Linked DNA regions of Homo sapiens: region 2 is linked to region 1. Evidence: fine-mapped expression QTL. A gene starts in region 1. The other region holds a variant in brackets. All regions are shown on one strand. Distances are from middle to middle. Region 1 holds the start of LINC03066 (long intergenic non-protein coding RNA 3066). Region 2 has its middle 31 kb from the start of LIRIL2R.

Region 1 (9,992 bases):
GATGGAGAAGGGCAGGAGGACTACACCATGGTGGAATGGCCAGGGCTGCTGAGGGGAGAGGGCCGCAGCTGAGGGAACAATGCCTTTGGCCTCCGCGTGGTGTGAAGGTGAGCATGGCCATGCAAGTGCTGCAACAGCAACAAATCCTGTGTCACTGCATTATTAAATAGTACTCATTTTCACTAACGGAGGAAAGAGGAACACACTGGTTAATTCCCTATGTTGTGTTCCAGGGAGCTGGGCACAGCTGGCATCATATCATCAGGAGACTCTCCACACATTCCAGGCACTTAGAGAAATGGGAAACGGCGCAGGGTGGGTGGAGAAAAGGAGAAACGAACATGTTCAAAGGATCCGCTCACTTTTCTATATCGCTAACAGGTCAAGCCATTTGTTTGAGCAGAGGCATTTTGGGGTCTATGATAAGCAGAGTGAGGGCCCGAGTTGAAGACAGTGGGAGACTGAGGGAGGAGAGGAAGGGCATCTTAAGGCAGGGGGCCCCCGGGCCAGGGCCCCCCAGGGAAAGCCTGGGCAGTGTGTGACTCGGCCTCTGAGCCGTCCACTGCGAGAGCCTCTCAGCTGAATCCTTGATATTTTGCAACACACGTAATATCATGGCCAATGGTCTGAGGGTGTGGGATTCACTCAAGCTGGGGGTGACTTCCACATTTGGGTGTGTGTAGAGGATGAGGACAGACTGGGAGCCAAGACCCCAGGAAGTCTGTCATGCAGGGAGCACAGGTGTGGGCACCTCGGCCCCTGAGGGTCCCTCCCGACATCTGGAGTATAAGGAACCCAGCATGAAACAAACCTCAGGAACCAGGGAGACCTTGGCCGCACTTGGGCCTTCAATACATGAATGTGGAAGAGCCTCGTACCATTCAATTATTACTCACATGAAGCAACTGCTGCGCTGTCGTTGCTGTTTTTGCTTGTACCTGTCCCGCCCCTCCCCCAGCAAAGTCAGTTAGAAGCAGACGCTGCTCAGTAACCAGTGGTACTTTCATTATTGATGGCTTGGTTTCATGCTATCTGTGATCTCCTTCCCTTTCTCTTTTTACTGATCTCACCGGTATTTGAAAATTGGTACACGATGTAGCTGACTACACCGTAGTCAATTTTTTGATTTCCCCATCCACCAAGAAACGCTCCCTTACGGGTCAAAAAGCAATTCCCCGGCTCTCTTCCCTTTTCCTGCGCACCGGCAGGCAGCCTTTCCTGCTGGTCCCAGTGCTTCTCGGAGGGCACCATCACGCGCCGCCCTGGCCTCGCCCACGCAGGGCTCTGGAACGGCCCTGTGGCTGAGGCCAAGGGCACCCCTCCAATGCCCACTGCCCTGCTGATATCCCCGACACCGCCCACCTCTCCACCTTCCACGCTGCTCCGCCCTCCTCCGCCACACACACTCCAAACCTGCAGTATTCTGAGAAACGCTGATTCACGTGTCAATGGGGGGTATAGGAAGAGAGATGAAGATAGTCAAGTTTCCATTCTCAAAATTCTCAAAATTCAAAGGAAAACACCATTGAGGTAGCTTATGATTATTGGCACCTTACAGACTGGGAAACTGAGGCTCCTTCTGCCAAGGACGAGGGGCAGGAGGAACCAAAGGTCTGCAGAGAAGACAGAAAGCTGCCAGCGCCTCTCCAGGGCCTTGATGGGGAGCTGGTGCTCGGCCCCAGCAGCCCTGGGGCAATCTCTAAAGCAGAGAAAGAGAGGTGCTTCATGAAGAGGTCTTGGGCTTTCTTTAGAATTCAGCCCTTCCCCTTTCTTCTTCCTAGGGGACTCCCAGCATAGTTTACCCTGGGAGCCCTGACTGTGTTGCAACGGGCTCAGGGTAGAGACCCGGTGACATGGAACCAGCCAGGCAGCAACCTATGCCTGCAAGTGAGTGTGGAGAAGAAGGAGGTGCAGGATCTGCCGCAAGGAGGGGCGCTCAGCATCAGTCTTGTGAAGTCATCAGTGTGCTCCGCTGTCCATGTAGCAGCAGTTACACCAGCCAAAGAGAGAAACAAAGTCAGGGCATGTGTACGTGCCCCGGTGCCCTTTTGGTTTCCGTTAGGCACCTTGCTCAATTTCCTGATAAACAAAACAGAGCCATCTGTGACTCTTCCAGCACACCTCCACTTTTAGGGAATTTTTAGGGATTTTAGGTCCCAGAGAGGAGAAACAGAACAGGGGAAGAAGTGCCCGATCGGTGTTAGGGGCCATGGTTCGAGGTCCTGCTTGTGTGACCTTCAGCAAGTTACCTTCCCTGTTTGCTTCCATTTCCACACCTGTGCAACAGGGCTGCGCTCTGTCTGAGAGACTAGAGGGTCACGTCGGATCATGAATAGCGTTTGGAACTGCTAAACACGCATTCAGTAATCTCATTTGTCAAGGATGGGAGCTCAGACCACAGGGCCTGTCTGAGACACAGCTGGGAAGTTTTTTTCTAGTTTCCCTTTTCTGAAAATCTGCTCCCACTCGGTGGTTTCTCCTGCCTACCACTGGCACCCAGCGTCTGGATATGTTGCCTACTGCACTGCCTACCAAGAACGCGTCAACGTTATCCCCATGTTGTGTGAGAGCAGGAAAAGAGGGTCTCCATCTTCGAGCTGAAGAGTCTTTCCCAGAGTGGATGTGCAGCCACCACCTGCCCAGGGGGTATTTTCCCAGAGCATCATTTCTACTCTACAAAGAATTTTAAATTTTGTGGGGTTTATTTTGTTTGTTTGTTTGTTTGTTTTTTGAGATGAAGTCTTGTTCTGTTGCCCAGGCTGGAGTGCAGTGGTGTGATCTCGGCTCACTGCAACCTCCGCCTACTGGGTTCAAGTGATTCTCCTGCCTCAGCCTCCCGAGTAGCTGGGATTAAAAGCATGGGCCATCAGGCCTGGCTAATTTTTGTATTTTCAGTAGAGACGGGGTTTCACCATGTTGCCCAGGCTGGTCTCGAACTCCTGGCCTCAGGTGATCTGCCTACCTTAGCCTCACAAAGTGCTGAGATTACAAGCATGAGCCACTGCACCTGGCCAAATTTTGTTTTTATATTTAAAAATACCTGGACATATGGCCAGGAGCAGTGGCTCATGCCTGTAATCCCAGCACTTTGGGATGCTGAGGCGGGTAGATCATTTGAGGTCAGGAGTTCAAGACCAGCCTGGGCAACATGGTGAAACCCCATCTCTACTGAAAATACAAAAATTAGCTGACTGTGATGGTGGGTGCCTGTAATCTCAGGTACTCAGGAGGCTGAGGCAGGAGAATCACTTAATCCGGGAGGTGGAGGTTGCAGTGAGCCAAAATCATGCCACTGCGTGATCTGTCCAGCCTGAGCGACAGAACAAAACTCTGTCTAAAAACAAAAACAAAAAACCTGGACATACCAGAAAATAAAATGCAGAGGTCATTAACATTTTTAGCTTTTCTTTTCTTTTTTTTTTTTAAGGAACCTTAAAGAAATGCTTGTGTTTAAGACAAACAGGCACTCCACATGATTCCCCTAAGCTCTGACGATGTTTATTTGGGTACAGCCTCCTCAGTTTATTTGCCTGGGGAGGAAACTAAGGCCCAGAGAAGTGAAGAGACTCTCCCTCCTCATGGCTCTGTCCTCTGCGAGGAAGAAGCATGGACGTTGCTGTCACTTTGTCTCCAACGCACCCTCAGTGCCTAGAACAGTGACTGGTACCACTCCCTGGCATCACTCACTAAGTGCAGGTTGAGTGTCCCTTATTTGAAATACTTGGAACCAGAAGTGTTTCAGATTTCAAATTTTTTTTGATTTTGGAATATTTGCAGAATTCATTCTGGCTGAGCATCCCTAATCTGATATCCAACATCCAAAACGCTCCAGTGAGTGCCTTCTTTAAGGGTCGTTTTGGTACTAAAACAGTTTTGGAGCATTTTGTATTTTTGGATTAGGGATGCTTAACCTGTATTTACTGAATAACTCAATTAATTTTAAGAGGCGAAAGGACCCATAAAGCCTCTGAGTTGCCTAGGAAGTGGCCACATTAACTCCAAGGATGAGGCGGACACCTTCTCGGGGCAGGATCGAACTGTTTCTGATCTTCAGCATCTGGCCCCATAAAATGAGAAGGGTTTTGCCTTGGGGTGAAACTGACCCTGGCATCTCCCTGGAGATGAAAAGCTCCTTATTTCCTAAAGATTCTTCTCAGAGCCAGAGGAAGTATGCTGAAATAGTCACAGTGATCATTTCTCATGAAGAGATATGAGTTTTACCCTCTTTTTAACTTTCTTCCTAATTTTTAAATAATAAGGTTGTATCACTCACAAAATAAGAATAACTTTATAGCACTCTGTATACATACATATATATGTGTATATATGTGTGTGTGTATGTATATATATATGTGTGTGTGTGTAAAGTCAGCAACAACAAGCCTTCCCCAAAGCGGCACACTGTCTGCATTTCTTCAGTGCCAACGTGAGGCACTTATGGGCATCCCCAGGGACTTGTGCGCCAGGCAGCTCCCATCGGCCCCGACGGCCAGTCCTGCCCACATGTGTGACATATATGGTGCTCCCAGACCTCCAAGGTTTGGTAAGAAAGAAAAACACTTGGACAACACACAGCCAGGCCGTGAACGTCACTTAGAAACGGGACCCATAAGAGCGACCTTCCCTGCTTCTCACGAGCCAGTGCATGCCCACACCAGTCCAGGCCTTTTCTTCTTCTACTGAGTGCTGCTTCCCGTCTCAGCTGATAGCACCACCACTCGTAGGTGAGTCCCTGTTCAACAGAACTCAGAGCTTTGCATCCATGGAGTGCCATGAACAAAAGTCACCGGTGTTTCTTAGGGAGAGAACTGCTTTTGCTCAGGGTCAGGATGCCCCACCTGCTTGGGGTGGGGAAGTTGAAGCTGGAGGAAGAGCTGGCTGCTCTGCAGAAGTTCAGAGGAATTGGAAGATGGGGCCAGGGAGGATGTGAGGAAGGGGAGGAAGGCAGAGACGGTGCAGGTGACTCAGCAGGAGGCTGGAGTCTAGAGGGAGAAGCTCCTTGACTGGGGTTGCTGAAGGGGTTTTAGAAATGAGGCTGTCAAAAAACATCACAGCTGCCTACTGCTTAATTTCTAGCTGACTCTGTGTTTCTAACCGTCTGTAGAGACTCCACACAGATAAAGCCCCTGTGCCACGGATTCTAGGGGGACGGGGCAAGAAGCCCAGTGCCAGGGTAGGAAGGAGGCCTTGGGAGGGGAGGCTGAAGAGTGAAAACTCAGGAGCAGATGCCGGGAGGCAGAAGTGACATCTGAACACACAGCCTCCGAGACAGTCCCTGGGTGGGAGACACTGAGGTTTCTGTTGTGCGCTGGATACGGCTTAAGCCTAATTTTACCTCAAATTTCAAAGGCCAGGGCGATCCAAGCTGATATTTGAGTTCCATTACCAGGCATATTCCTTACAACAAGAAGAATGTAAATTCTGTGGAAATTCTAGAACTTCTTTTTTACATTTAAACACAATTCCTTTGTTCCCATATCCTGAAATCAGTAAATTTAAGCAATTTTATTTTTCATTCTGTGCTTCAGGGATCTATGAGGGTCAACACATATTTATCACACGCTGACCTTGTGCTCAGGCCTATAGGAAAATGAACCTCCCTGCCCGCAATGACCTTAGAACCTAACTAAGGATATGGTTAAAACAAGCGCAGGATTGGGTGAGACCTGCTCAAGGGTCAGGCGCTGGTTTGTCGGGGAGAAATGTTGCCCAGGAAGGACAGGTGTGAAAGAAAGAGAAGATCCTGCAAGACCGGAGGGCCCAGGAAAGTCTGGGGGACTCAAAGGAGAGTTTCAGGATTGACCATGGGTGGACAGGGCTCTGCAGACCAGGATCTTTTCTATGCACACTTGGGGCCAGAAAGTTCTTTGTGGTGGGGGCTGTCCTGTACAATGCAGGAAGCTCAGCAGCATCCCTGGCCTCCACCCACTCAATGCCAGTGGCACTCCCTCCCTAGTTGTAAATGTGTGCAGACATTAGTACTTGTCACCTGCAGGGAAGAATCACCCCACTGAGAACCACATGCTGAGTCAAGGCAACAGCATAGGAATTGGAGCACGCAAGAGAGCTGGTCAACACAGGTGAGCTCTTGTGTGGGCCTCTCTATGGGCCTCCAGCCAGTCCCCAGACAACTCTGCTCTGGGCACCAGTGGCCACGTTCTCAGGGCAGGCACTACTGGTGATCATTCTACTCACACCTCTCTCTGGCATCAATGGCCTGATTACACACTGGGGATAGTAGGTAGTAGGTATATTTAGAGGGGCACAAAAATAACCGTGGCTGCCAAGCCAAAAAATTCAGAATTGCTCTCCTTAGTACAGGTTTAATATCGCTAATCTGACTTCAGAGTTTTGGATTAGGGATGCCAAACTGGTAAGTATAATGCAAAGATTCCAAAATCCAAAAAATCTGAAATACAAAACACTTCTGGTGGCAAGCATTTGGGACAACAAAGTGTGGTATATTTCTGATGAGATTTTGTCGTGTTTCAGAAAAATTAATTTGATAGTGATGTGCCCAATTGAATGCAAGGAAGGAGCAGGGTTTTCTGACCTGGTGATTGTGGATACGCCTCAGGAGGCTGATGACAATGAAACTGCGCCATCATTGTGTGGGTTCATTTGCTTTTCTGAGGAGGGATTCCATAGATTTCATCCGACACTCCACAGGTTGAGAGCTCTTGGATTCAACTGGTGCCCAAACACAAGACAGGACCACCAGTGCATATTTGAATAGGACAATCCTTCTGCCCATCCATCTGGTCCCTGCTTCCACTTCCCACAAGCAAACATCCAGTCCACAAAACTCATTGAGCAGCTGCAGTGAGCTGTGTGCCAAGCATGTGCCAGGGACTGGAGCTGCAAAGAGAGATGGAGGCCACAGGGAAGAGGCCACGAGATAGTCAGTTGTCTCATGAAGTAGAATACAGGTGAAGCCAGATTATCACAAGCCATGAAAACCTTCTGGAGGTGACGTCTGAGCTTTGTCTTGCCAGTTGATCTCGCTAGAATACATACGAAGTAAAGAGGGGCCTGGAATTGCTGGTGGCTGAGGAAATGGGAGAGGAAAAAGCATGCCGGACAGTCACGGTGCAGGAAGCCCTCATCACTACTAAGACTTACTGACTAATCGCACACGGGGGAAGGAAGCTTGGGTGGCCGTGAGTCAAGGATCCAAGCCTGGAAGCCTGCAGACAATACTGACTGGGGTTGGCAGCAGAAAGGGGAGGACGTTTTGAGTGGGAAGACAATGAGTTTTGGTTTTAGATATCTTGAGTTGAAGGCAATGAGAGGATACCCAGAGACTATTCAGAACATCTTGAGAGGAACTGGGAATACAGGACTGCTGCTGGGGACATGTCAGGGAAAGAGGTGGGCAGAGAGGAAATGGGTCTGTTTTCTCAGGGGCAGTGAGGGGCACCGTCGAGCCAGCCTTCCACAGCTCTGGTTTCTCTGGGCACTTTCTTTCATGGGCTTCTTTGTGGGTCACAGACATGTTCGGTGGGGAGAAAAATCTCAGTAGAGCAACCTTCATTAAAGTTTCGGGTTCCAGGTTTGAATGAGTAGTTGGGTGTTGAGCAGGATCCTTCCCCGGAGTGATGAGGGGGAAGGGATGTTCAAGCACTGGGTGGAGGGTAGGCACATTCTATGTTTTGATAGAACCTCCTAGTCACATTCACCCCCATTGTGATGCCAGCCAGTGGTCCTCAAAACGTAGTGTCCATGAGAACCACTGAGAGCTTGTTAGGAAAAGCCATCAGCTCAGCCCCACCTCCCTAGAGATTGTGATGTTTAGGTCTGAGGTGGACTCATATGGGTTGTGTTTGTTTGTTTACTTTTTACACAGTAAATTTGGCTTTGTGGAGGTCAGTGGTGGAGTGTGCGGGTTTTATGAATTCTAGCACAGGGAGTGGATTTGTGTAACCACCACAATGCATGCAGAAAAGTTCCACCAGCCCAACAAGCTCCCTTAGCTACCGATTTCTACTCACACCTGACCCCACCTCACTCCCTTGGTAAACACAGGGCTTTTCTCTGTCACTATTGGTTTTTTATTTTCAAGTCTGGAATTATACAGTGTGTAACATTCAAGCCTGGCTTCATTCACTTAGAATAATGCCTATGAGATTCATCTGAGTTATTGTCTGTATCAATGGTTTGTTCCTTTTTAGTGCTGAGTAGTGTTCCATGGTATGGATGGACCACAGTTTGTCAGTTACCCAGTTGAAGGACATCTGGGTCCTTCAAGGTTTTGGCAATTGGAATCTGCCTTTAAACAAGCCCACTAGATGATTCTGATGCAAATGGTCCCAGATCACACAGTGCCCTAGGTTGTGCACAAATGCGAATACTTTTAACTTTGGCTGATCTGATCAGTGGGAGTATCTTATTATCAGATTTGCATATTTCTGATCGTCAGGAGGGTTGAGAATTTTTTAAAATCCTTATTGGCCATTTATGATTCTTCTTTGAATTGCCTACTCTTATGGTAGCTACACCAGGCCAATCTGGTTCGACTTTTATGTAACAAAGTTGTGAGTTGTTGTTCAGTTGCCATGGACCCTCAGTTCACATAGCCTGAGCACACCCAGGTAAACAAAGTGTGCAGCCACAGGGCAAACCTAAGTGCTCAGACTGAGAGCCAGGGACTGAATTAAGAAGAGGACACTGCATGCCTGGATTCAGGATCCAGGATCCAATCGGATGGAGCTTTGGCCTCACCCCATGGCAAGATCCAGTCAGGTTGTGCCACCAGGCATCACCTCATTGCAATATCCAATCAGATCACATGTCATTACCCTTTGCTTATAAAACCTGACCTGGCCCTTGGCTTGGGCAGGTGCTGATTTGGGAGCTATCGCTGGTCTCCTTGCAAGTAGTAAAATTTCCCTGCTAAATCCTCTGCGGGTGGTTGTCCTCCACCAAGTGACCAAGCCCACCCATTGTGTGGATAACGATATCTTTTGCCTTGTATTTTTTTTTTTTTTTTTGGTAGCCAAATTGTTTTGTTTTTCATGGTGTCTTTTAGGAGCTCTTTTATGTTAAGGATCTTAACCCTTTGTTGTAAGTATTTTTTCACAGTCTGCTGTTTTTCTACTGTTTCTTGACCTGTTGAAAAATAACAAGCACGGCCCACTCTGACCAAAATTCCTAGAACCACAGCCTGCAGATGAGAGTCCAACAAAGGCTTAAGAATAGCATGATCTGTTTGGATGACTAAATTTTTGCCTGCTTGTTCAACAAGGTGTTCAATATAAACTCAACCTTAAAGGCACAGTCTGCTTTCAGCTGTATTCACTTTGGTTCTGTGAATCACAGGGTCCTTTACTTTTTATTGTTCCAGCTGTTTTCCTGTTTTGGGCAGAGCTGAAGATTGTTTTGATTGTTTATGAACCTAAAATTCAGAGAAATTTCAAACCCTTCACAGGCATGTTCTGACAGTAGATGGGAGGACTTTTCCTAATGTGAAGTCTCACTTTTTTTTTCCTAATCAGCTGTTAAAATAACCTTCAGTCAGCTGGGCATGGTGGCTCACACCTGTAATCCCAGCACTTTGGGAGGCCAAGGTGGGTGGATATGAGGTCAAGAGATAGAAACCATCCTGGTCAACATGGTGAAACCCCACCTCTACTAAAAATACAAAAATTAGCTGGGTGTGGTGGTGGGCACCTGTAGTCTCAGCTACTCAGGAGGCTGAGGTAGGAGAATCACTTGAATCCAGGAGACAGAGGTTGCAGTGAGCCCAGAACACACCACTGCACTCCATCTGCCTGGCAACAGAGCGAGACTCTGTCTCAAAAAAATAAAAATAAAAAAATAATAATAATTTCTCAACCTGGAAGACATAATATCTCATTTACCCAGCACATAAGTGCGTTTTTTAATTAAGAGACATGACTTGAGAAACAATGCATTCTTTTAAAAATTTGACTCATGGCTGGGAGTAGTGGTTCATATCTGTAATCCCAGCACTTTGGGAGGCCAAGATGGGC
Region 2 (9,992 bases), 57 kb after region 1:
GTATAACACATGTATGTGGCTGTGTCCCATTACAACTTTACTTACAAACGCAGACTGTGTCAGACCTGGCCCATGCATGGTAGTTTGCCACACCCTGTTTTAGAAAGCTCAGGTTTATGATGTGATGGAGAATGCCTACAAGAGCTCTTGTTTTAAATGGTAGAGTGAACATACACTGGAATTCTATCCTGCTTGACCCAAGCTCTTGATAGCGAAAGGTAGAAAAGATAGATGGTAAATAGATAGATAGATGATAGATAAAGAAAATACATAGCTGTTCCAGAAAACAGAAATGGATAACTTCATGAACCAAAAGCAGAGTAATATACTTTAGAAAGGGAGCAGGCTGGAAAACTCACAGTTGCAAAGCAAATAGAATTTCCAACTGCCTCTTGTAGCCCCTTCCTGGAAGTAGTCACAACCCAGGGTGTTTCGACTTCTTCCCCTGTTTTTTGTTTGTTTGCTGTTTGCTTTTTTGTGGGTTTTTGTTGTTGTTGTTTGCTTTTTTAAAAAAAATTCCCTTTCCCTGCTTTTTTGTCACAGCAGTCTTTGTCACTTCAAACACCACAAGTTTTCTTTTTCAAAAAATTATATCAACCTTTCAATTAAAATGCAACATGTCTGAAACTTGATATCTAGAGAGGTGATATGGACAAAGGAGCCCTTGTTACTGCACGTTTCTGTTCTCCAGACTTCACCTTGCACACAAGAACAGACAATGCACAAAACCACTTCCTTATGGACTGAAATTCTGAAATCCTTTTATGACTGGCGTTTCCTAACCCTTCAACTTCCCCTCTCCCATGCTGTGAATGATTGTATTGGACATTTTTGTTTTAATCTCAGTGACAGGGGAACACAGGTAGCTCTAATATAGCTGTGACCCAGATGCTTCTGTTTCTACCATGTATTTATTTTGTAGCAAACATTTACATCCATCGTTTTTCACTGTCTTTTGAAAATAATTAGGGAATATCTCATCTGAGGTAGGATGTTTCTAGTGGTTGTGTTCTGAAGGAGGAAAAACTAATCTGTTCTCTTTCCACTGCATTCCAGGAACAGTGAGAGGACCTTGTGCATGAATAATTTGTTTCCACACTACAGAGTGGGTAATAAGCAGATTAGTAAAAACAATTCTGCTTCACTTCAATAACAGCCTCCTCCAACTCATTTTTTCTCAACAAACTTATTTTTCCAGCAGAATAATCCCAGACTTCTTAAGAGAACCCAGTGACTTTTCGCACCTTAAATCTGTGAAATCCTGTTTTCTTACGCCATATGCATAGTTCAAACATACAAAGATGATGCAAAGCCAGACGCATTCCTGAAGGAGCCTAAGAAATTCCTCTCTTTCTGTCTCTGGAATGAAATGAATTCTCTAGACCATCAGTTCTAACCTTCAGAAACCAAACCTGTTTGTGAGATCTCCTTCAAATGCTACTGTAGACTCCAGTGTTTATTCATTAAATTTTTAAAGTATTTGTTTTATTTGGAATCAGTTTATTTGTAATTTTAGTATTTGTATTAATACAAGGGAGAAATGTTTAAGTCTGTCTATGCCATATATGCCTCTGGCTTATTGCCCAATTAATTGTAGCCTCAGGCTAAACTTTGGTTTCTGTTTTTATTTTTTTCAGGACAAATATAACTGATCTCAAAACATCTGCTTTTATTGTAGGGGCTTGTGCTGCCATCTCCATTCCTCTCTCTTTTCTTGCAATCTGGGTGGAAGTTCTTTAATATGAACATTTCAACCACCTTCATTCTACCATGTCCACTATCAGCACATTCAAGCTTATCCAGCCAAGGCTGTCATCTTAGGCCAGGGATTTTTTAGGAATCTATTTTGCTGTGATGCAGCTGGTACCCCTTTGATTCACTTTATCACTCCAGGGTTTTTTTTCATTTTAGGAGCCCAAGAAGGCAGAAAAAGAAGTAGGTGAGCAATTAAACCCTCTGAGTAGGAGCGTCTCCCCTTGCGTTAAACAATGTTGTAGAACATCGTATTTAGTAAGCTCCTAGCAGATGAGCCACGTGGCTGCTGTGCACACACGCCTGCTTGCTGCTGTGAGCTCAGACACCATCATTAGTCTTTTGCATCTCTGGAGGGAATTATAAGGACCACTTAATAACCTGTGAATCATAGAGAGTTAAAGGTGTTTCCCCAAAACACTGATGACAGAATGAAAGGTGAGGAGTGTTAGCCACAGGTCAAAAGTGCAAGAAAGTCTCTCAATGTGGGTTGTTGAAGAAATGCAGGTCTTTTTTCTTTTGGAAGTCTCCCTAGAATGGGGTCAAGGACTCTGCCCATTCTAGGATGAAAAACTGGGATATTAGACACCCTCAGTTATTTATTCCAAGCCTTCATTTTGGGCTCTTAATTAGTTTATTCAACCATCACAATCTCAAATGCTAGCAAAGCTGAGAACTCAGTTTTGAAATTTACTCTTGGGTCCCCTCAGCCAAGAGTGGGTCTGTTCAGTCAGTTGGGAGCTTAGGATTTCATTTTCATTTATCATTGCTAATGGGAAAGAGTACGCTGTCTTCATGGCAGCTGAATTTGCAAGAAACTCCTTGGATGGGGTTAATGGCAGCTGTATTTTTCTGGGAGCTCTGCTTTAACTGGATAAAGTAAGTTCTGCTAAGATTTCTTCCTTTATCTTCAGTATCTCAAATGCTTTCATTTAAATAATCTTTATAACAACTTTTGATGTCTGAGTGGATTCCCACACAGTCATCTATTGTAAGACTTTCTGATTCCTTTTTTTTCCTTTGTTCATTATGAATAAGGCTTCTGTAAATAATTGCATGGTAGCTTTTGTTTGGAAATAGCATCAAAGTAGTTGTCAAAATACTTAGGAATGTGATTTTTGGATTGTAAGGTGAAACTTGTTTAGCTTTGGAAAAAAGTGCCCAACTTGTAATAGGGGAGGAAAAATAATTTTCTATGTTTTTGGAATTCTGAGATGGGACCCTCTGTAAAAACTGACAGATTAAAATGAGAAAAACAGAAAAGTTTAAAAACATGTATACCTTATGGATACATGGGAGATACTCAGGGCAAAATGAGTAAATCTCCAACAGGTGGCTTTCAATTCAAGCATAAATACTATGTTGAACTTAAAGAAAGAAGATTTGAGGTGCAGTAGTGGGGAGTTAGCCAGCAAAAGCACAGTAGACAAGGGTAAGGTTTGTTATACAGACTTAAGTCCATGCAGTCTCCATTGATAAGACTCTTTAGTGATTTAGTTATCCTTCTCTTCTTGGTGTTGAGAGAGGTAGCTTTTGAATGGGGATTTCCTTTATAGATGTAAATTTCCCTTACACAAGGGTAACTTCTACTCTGTTTTCAGAACTTCCTTTGTTAGCATTTTTTTTTTTCAAAATAATCAGCTTGGAATAATTCTTAAGCAAAAGGGACATATTTTGGGGTGGCATATTCTGGTTTCCTACCATTATATTTTGGGGTGGCATATTTTGGTCTTATACACTGTGTTCCACCGGCAATGAAAAGAGTTCTTGTTTTTCCTCCAGCAATTTGTCATTTTTTAAAGAGTTTAGCAGTTCTAAGAGATGCAGACCAGCTGTGCTATCTCATTGTGGTTTTCAGTTCTCTAGCATGTTGAGCATGTTTTTGTATGTTTACCTGCCATCTGTAGATCTTCCTTGGTAAGATGTCTGTTGAGATCTGTGTGCCTTTTTAATTGGGCTGTTTAACTTATTGTTTAGTTTTAAGAATTTTTAAATATATTTTGAATACAAATTCTCAGATCTGTATTTTGCAAATATTTTCTTCAATATGTGGCTTGTCTTTTTGTTATCTTAACAAGGTCTTCTCCAGAGTATAAACTTTAAATATTAAGAAATCCACATTGTCATTTCTTCTGTGTATATCAACCTTTTGTGTCATTTGTTAAAATTCATTACCAAACCCAAAGGCACATAGCTTTTCTTCTATAGATTCTTCTAGAAATGGTATAGTTTTGCATTTTTAGTGTAAGGATGATTTTGAGTGATTATTTGTGTAAGTTGTAAAGTTTTCATCTACATGCATATCATTTCCTATGGTTTCCAATTAATCCTTCCATCACTATTTTTGGGAAACACACAGGATAGTGGGCTCTGTTAGAGGAGATAGATAGCTAGACATGAACAGGAGGGGGAGCTCCTGGAAAAGGGAAAGTCTGAGAAGGCTCACCTGGAGGGACCACCAAAAATGCACATATTAGTAGCATCTCTAGTGCTGGAGTGGATGGGCACTTGTCAGTTGTGGGTAGGAGTGCGAAGAGGTACCTATGCAGAAAGAAAAACCCTAGAACTCTCTTTAAGATGCCCCAACCATCATTCACTCTGCAATAAAAATGTCAGAATATTGGTAGCTACATGCTGATAAGAAGGACAAAGGGGACATTCTTAAGAGAAACCTGGCACCCTAAGTGCAGATTAGGGCAAAGAAGGACATTCAAAAGAGATAGGCAGGCACACTGGGTACAAACGTGACCGCTGTCAGCCTGCCTGGGATGGCGGGAAGGAGGCTGGTGCCAGAGTGGATTCGGATTGATCACCACACATGTACCTCAACCAACAGTGAGGAGGTCCCACAAGCCTAAGTGTGGCAAGTCGGGGACCTAAGGCAGTAGCAGGAAAACCAGACAAAGAGAACAGGTGGAGACTTGAGACAGAGGCAGGAATGTGAAGAAGTCCAAAATAAAATTCCCTGCACAGGACTCCTAGGATGTTTTCATGCACGATCAGCCCACTCCTCCCTATTTTTCTACAATGAGCTCTTTACACTGTATTTCTTTTCAATGAAGTTGTCTCCCATTTTTGTACTGCCTCTTGGTGAAAATCTTTCTTCCAAGTTAGACAAGAACTGGGACATCAGCTCTCCCTAGTACTAGCTCCGTTTCAGTTGAATTTACAGAACTGATGGGGCTTAAAAACTGATGCTCTGACTTTAAGTGGTGCAGGAGGCAGCCAGTAGGGGACGCCAACCGTCACACTGGGAGCAAGAGAGCCCTGCCTAGTCCCCATCTGCCTGCAGGTGGCGTGCTGCCTCGACACTGCCACCAAGAGGGCCAGGCAGTGTCTCCAGCTGCCAGCAGGTGGCGTACGACGACTACACTGTGAGCAACAGGGCCCTGCAGTGTCCTTAGCTGCCAGCAGGTGTCATACGGGCACCACACCATGAGCAAGAGGACCCCGCAGTGCCCTGGTTGCCAACAGGGGGCGTGCTGCCACTACACTGTGAGCGAGAGGTTCCTGTAGTGCCCCCAGGGGCCAGAAGAGGGCGTGCCCCCACTGCACTGCAAGCAAGAGGGCCCGGCAGTGTCCCCAGCTGCCAGCAGGGGGGTGTGCTGCCACCACACTGTGAGCAAGAGGACCCTGCAATGTCCCTAGCTGCCACCAGGCGGCGTGCAGCCGCTATACTGTGAGCAA[G/TG]AGGGCCCTGCATTGCCCCGGCGCCAGCAGGGGGCGCTGGCCACCACTATAAGCAACAGAGCCCTGCAGCTGCCCTAGTCGCCAGCAGGGGGCGCACTGGCACAGCACCGTGACCAAGCGGGTCCTGTAGTGCCCAGCTGCAAGCAGGGGGCGGTCGAGCCCGGCTTTTCGAATTACTGAGGTTCCACCCGTCTCCGCGCCTGCACCGCGCCCCACCCCCAGCACAGGGGCGTGCGACTGTGCTCCTGCACCACGCCACCCCAACCCCCGCCCGGCGGCGTGCTCTCTGCGCATCCACCGCGCCTCCCGCGCGCACGTCGCGTCAGTCTGTGCGTGCCCGCGCCGGCGCGGGGTGCCTTTGCGGGGGCAGAGCTGCGTTCTGCTTAACACAGACCCGGGGGACACCAAAAACGCGGAGCAGCTTTCTCAGCACACACCTTGGGGGCACGGCCTCGCTTTGGGACAACTCAGGGCAGCATCGACGGTGAACAAAATCCTTTCTGTTTGCAGCCCTGAATAATCAGGGTTAGGGTTAGGGTTAGGGGTTAGGGTAGGGTTAGGGTTAGGATTAGGGGTTAGGGTTAGGGTTAGGGTTAGGGTTTAGGGTTAGGGTTAGGGTTAGGGTTAGGGTTAGGGTTATTGGTTAGGGTTAGGGTTAGGGGTTAGGGTTAGGAGTTAGGGTTAGGGGTTAGGGTTAGGGTTCAGGTTCGGGGTTCGGGTTGGGGTTGGGTTTGGGGTTAGGGTTAGGGTTAGGTTTTGGGGTTAGGGTTAGGGTTTGGAGTTAGGGGTTAGGGTTAGGGGTTACCGTTAGGGTTAGTGTAGGGGTTAGGGGTTAGGCTTAGTGGTTAGGGTTAGGGTTAGGCTTAGGGTTAGATTACAATTTCTAACCTGTTTTATTTTGTTTTTTTTCTGAGACAGGGTCTCCCTCTTTTGTCCAAGGCTGGAGTGTGGTAGTGCTATCACAGCTGACTGCAGCCTCAACCTTCCAGGCTGAAGCGATCCTCCCATCTCAATCTCCTACGTGGCTGAGACTACAGGTGCTTGCCACTATGCCCAACTAACATTTGGAATTTTCGTATACGTGGATTCTAGAGGGGTGACAGCGAAACGTGAGTAAGCATGGATTTTGGTATATGCAGAGATGGGGGGCTGGAACTAATTCTGTATACTGAGGGATGACGACTGTATATGTTTTTACAATTACGCTGTAGGATACATACTGTTGCATAGCCTTGAAAATAATAATTTTTAATTGAGTGGAATAATAATAATATTGATAAAAGTAGCAGCTGGCCAGGTGTGGTGGCTCACACTGGTAATCGCAACACTTTGGGAGGCTGAGGCAGGAGGATGGCTTGAGGCCAAGAGTTTGCGATAGGCCTTGGAAACAAAGGGAGTCACCATCCCTATAGAAAAATACATGAATTAGCCTAGTGTGGTGGCATGTTCCTGTAGTCCCAGCTACTTGGGAGGCTGAGGTGGGAGGATCACTTGAGCCCAGGGAGGCTGAGACTGCAGTGAGTCATGATCAGGCCTCTGCACTCCAGCCTGGGTGACAGAGTGAGACCCTGTCTCTAAACAACAAAAAAGTAGCAGCTAACATCAACTGACCTTTTACCGGGTGCCTATGGATACCATAGTTTAATTTCTTATAACTGTTTCTTATTTTACTTACCAACTCTGTCTTCAGTTACTCCCAGATTTTTACTGTGTGTGTACAGATGACCTTTTGGAGGAGCCTCAACAGGCACAGCTCCTCCCTCATAGTGGCCCATTTAGGCCCAACTCATGACTGTCGGGCTATTTCCAGGCCTAGTGTCTGCCTCGTGGCTGACTGTTGAAGCCCAAAACTTCCTCAAATCAGCCTTTTGCCCAACTTCTGTCTACTGTCGGACTCTACAGGCCAGCCTCTGCCTCACAGTGGACCCTCCAGACCCAGATGGTGTCTCACTGTGGCATCCTCAGGCGAAGCTCCTGCCTTTTGGCAGCCTCTCCGGGCCCAGCTCCTCCTGCCTCCCAGTGGCCTCTTTCGGCCCAGCCCAGCTCATGGCTCTCGGCGGCCTTCCCAGGCCCCGCTTTTGACTTTTGGCAGCCTCTTCAGGCGCAGAACTTGATCTCCAGTCGGCCTTTGCAGGCCCGGCCTCCTGCCTCTCGAAGGCCTGCACGGGCCTGGCCTCGGCCTTGGCCTCACAGCGGACTCTCCACGCCCAGCTAGCTCTCGCCTCACTGAGGCCTCCCCAGTCCAAAGCTCCTGCCTTTCGGCCACTTCGGCAGGTCCAGCTCCTGCCTGCCAGTGGCCTCTTTAGGCCCAGCTCATTCCTCACGTCGGCCATTCCAGGCCCCGTTTTTCCCTTCCGGCAGCCTCTTGGCCTCTAATTTGTTTATCTTTTGTGTATAAATCCCAAAATATTGAATTTTGGAATATTTCCACCATTATATATTTTGGTAGGTAATTTATTTGGAGTGAGTTTCTGCCCATGCCCGAATTTTTTATTTTATTTTCCTTATTATTTGGTGTTAAACAGGTTTAATGACGGTCATGGCAACTTTTTGGCACAATGAAAAATATCGCCCATGATCAACGTGTTCTGTTCTGGGGAAGGGGGCAAAGGCAGGGTGAATCACTTTCTTAAAAAGTATAGCTCAAGTTGGGAGTGCAGAGGGAATGGGGAGAAAACCCTCCCGCTGCCTGTGTCGAAGTGCAGGAGCCCCCACCCCCATACTCACCTGAGTCCAGCCCCTCTGGGGAAAGAAGGGGTGCATGAACTCCCCCTAGTCCACAGGCGCCTCCCTGTGGCCCAAGGCCCTCTTCACACTCCATCTTGTAGCCCCAGCAGGAGCTATTTTCCGAAAAGTGAAAAGCTCTGAAGGTCCCACAATTCATGGTATGTACAGGGGCTCGGAGGAGGGAAATTGCCCAGCTTTCCCCCGGCACAGCTGCAGGGTTAGGGGGTATAGATAAGAGGAGCAGGCCTTGGCCAGGCGTGGTGGCTCACGCCTGTAATCCCAGCACTTTGGGAGGGGGAGGCAGGCAGATCACGACGTCAGGAGATCGAAATCAGCCTGGCCAAGATGATGAAGCCCCGTCTGTACTAAAAATACAAAAATTAGCCGGACGTGGTAGCGTCTACCTGTAATCCTAGCTACCCGGAAGGCTGAGGCAGGAGAATGGCGTGAACCCGGCGGGAAGAGGTTGCAGTGAGCCAAGATCGCACCACTGCACTCCAGCCTGGGCGACAGAGCAAGACTCGGTCTCAAAAAAAAAAAAAAAAAAAAAAAGAGGAAGGCCTTACTCCGTCCCAAACTGAAAGGATTAAATGGCTTCACCTGGGAGAAGATAACCATCCTGCCCTCCATTGCTACCCCCACATACTGTCCATGTTCTCAGGGGGTACTGTGAGTCCTGGGATCTTTGGGGTTGCCCACCTGCCTGTGGTAGTTATGGAGACCCCCAGGTGTTGAGGCAGGGCTGGGGTGTCCCCTTCCAACCAGGCTGTCAAGGCCCCAACTCTGGGGCAGAGGCAGTGGCAGGGCAGCCAGGTTTGTGCCAGAGCCTGAGCAGGTTGAGGTGGGGTCAGGCAGGGCTGGGAGTCAGGGCAGGGGCAGCAGCAGTGGACCCGCTATGCACACATCTTCTTCTCCAAGGTTTGTGTGCAGAACATCCTGCCCATGCTGACCCAGCAGCTTCAGTTGGCACCTGCCCCAGTCCAGCCTCTGGGAACCATGCAGCAGCTCCCAGCGGCCCTGCACCCACCACCAGCATCCGTTTCACCTGCAGTTGAAGATCCGTGAGGTGCCCAGAAGATCATGCAGTCATCAGTCCCACGGAGCAGCCCGCGAGGCTGAGGCTCCTCCCACTGGACCGCCCCCCAACTGGCACCACTGCTGCCCCTGCCCCTACTCTCAGCCTCACGTGACTCTCGGGCAGAGGCAGTGGTGGGGCAGCCAGGGCAGCGTCAAGAGTCTGAGCCAGGTGAGGTGCGGTCAGGACCCCCACAGGGCTGGGAGTCAGGGCAGGGGCAGAACAAACCTTGGAGGGGAAGATGTGTGCATAGTGGGCCTGGAGGGCGGCTGTGGCCTAGTGGACAGGAAGAAGCAGTGGGCCTGGAAGAGCTGCATGATCAGGGCCGGCACTGGTCCAGGGCACGTGCAGTGAAGAGGACAGCTCCTTCTCGGTCTCCGGTTCCCTGAGCCTGTCCTCGGCTTCTCCACCTGTACAGGCAAAGGGGAAGCTGTCCCCATCACACATGGCACACTTGGGGGTGTTGGGCTTTGGACTGCAGCTGGAACATCTTCTCATCTTGCATTTGGGCGTGGTGGGGTCCTCCAGTGTGGGATCCATGTCCGTGGGGTTCCCTCTGCCCCGACCCCTAAAGCCCAGTCAGTTTCTCTTCAGGCTCTGCTCCCCGGGTGGCTCAGCCCAGCTCCTGCCTAGGAAAGCCTTAGTGTTGGGAGGGACCCTGATGACTGAGGAGCCTGGTAGCTCCAGGTCGCCCACACTTTCAGGTCTCTTGCACCAGAAGGTGGCAGGATCCATTGGGAGGAAACAGGCC

The links.
Region 2: its variant is fine-mapped to the expression of LINC03066 in hippocampus (GTEx, PIP 0.98). The same link has a PIP of 0.9 or more in cerebellar hemisphere.

What each region holds. Positions count from the first base shown.
Region 1 is chr6:200,975-210,966 of GRCh38, reverse strand. LINC03066 (long intergenic non-protein coding RNA 3066) reads left to right here and starts at 5,483. Exons shown (of 8, transcript NR_126020.1): 1 at 5,483-6,080. RefSeq lists enhancers at 696-895, 1,707-1,756.
Region 2 is chr6:143,956-153,947 of GRCh38, reverse strand. It overlaps the pseudogene SEPTIN14P6 and the pseudogene CICP18. Among named protein-coding and RNA genes, the nearest start is that of LIRIL2R, 31 kb to the left of the region's middle. The variant G/TG (reference allele first, on the strand shown) is at 5,440.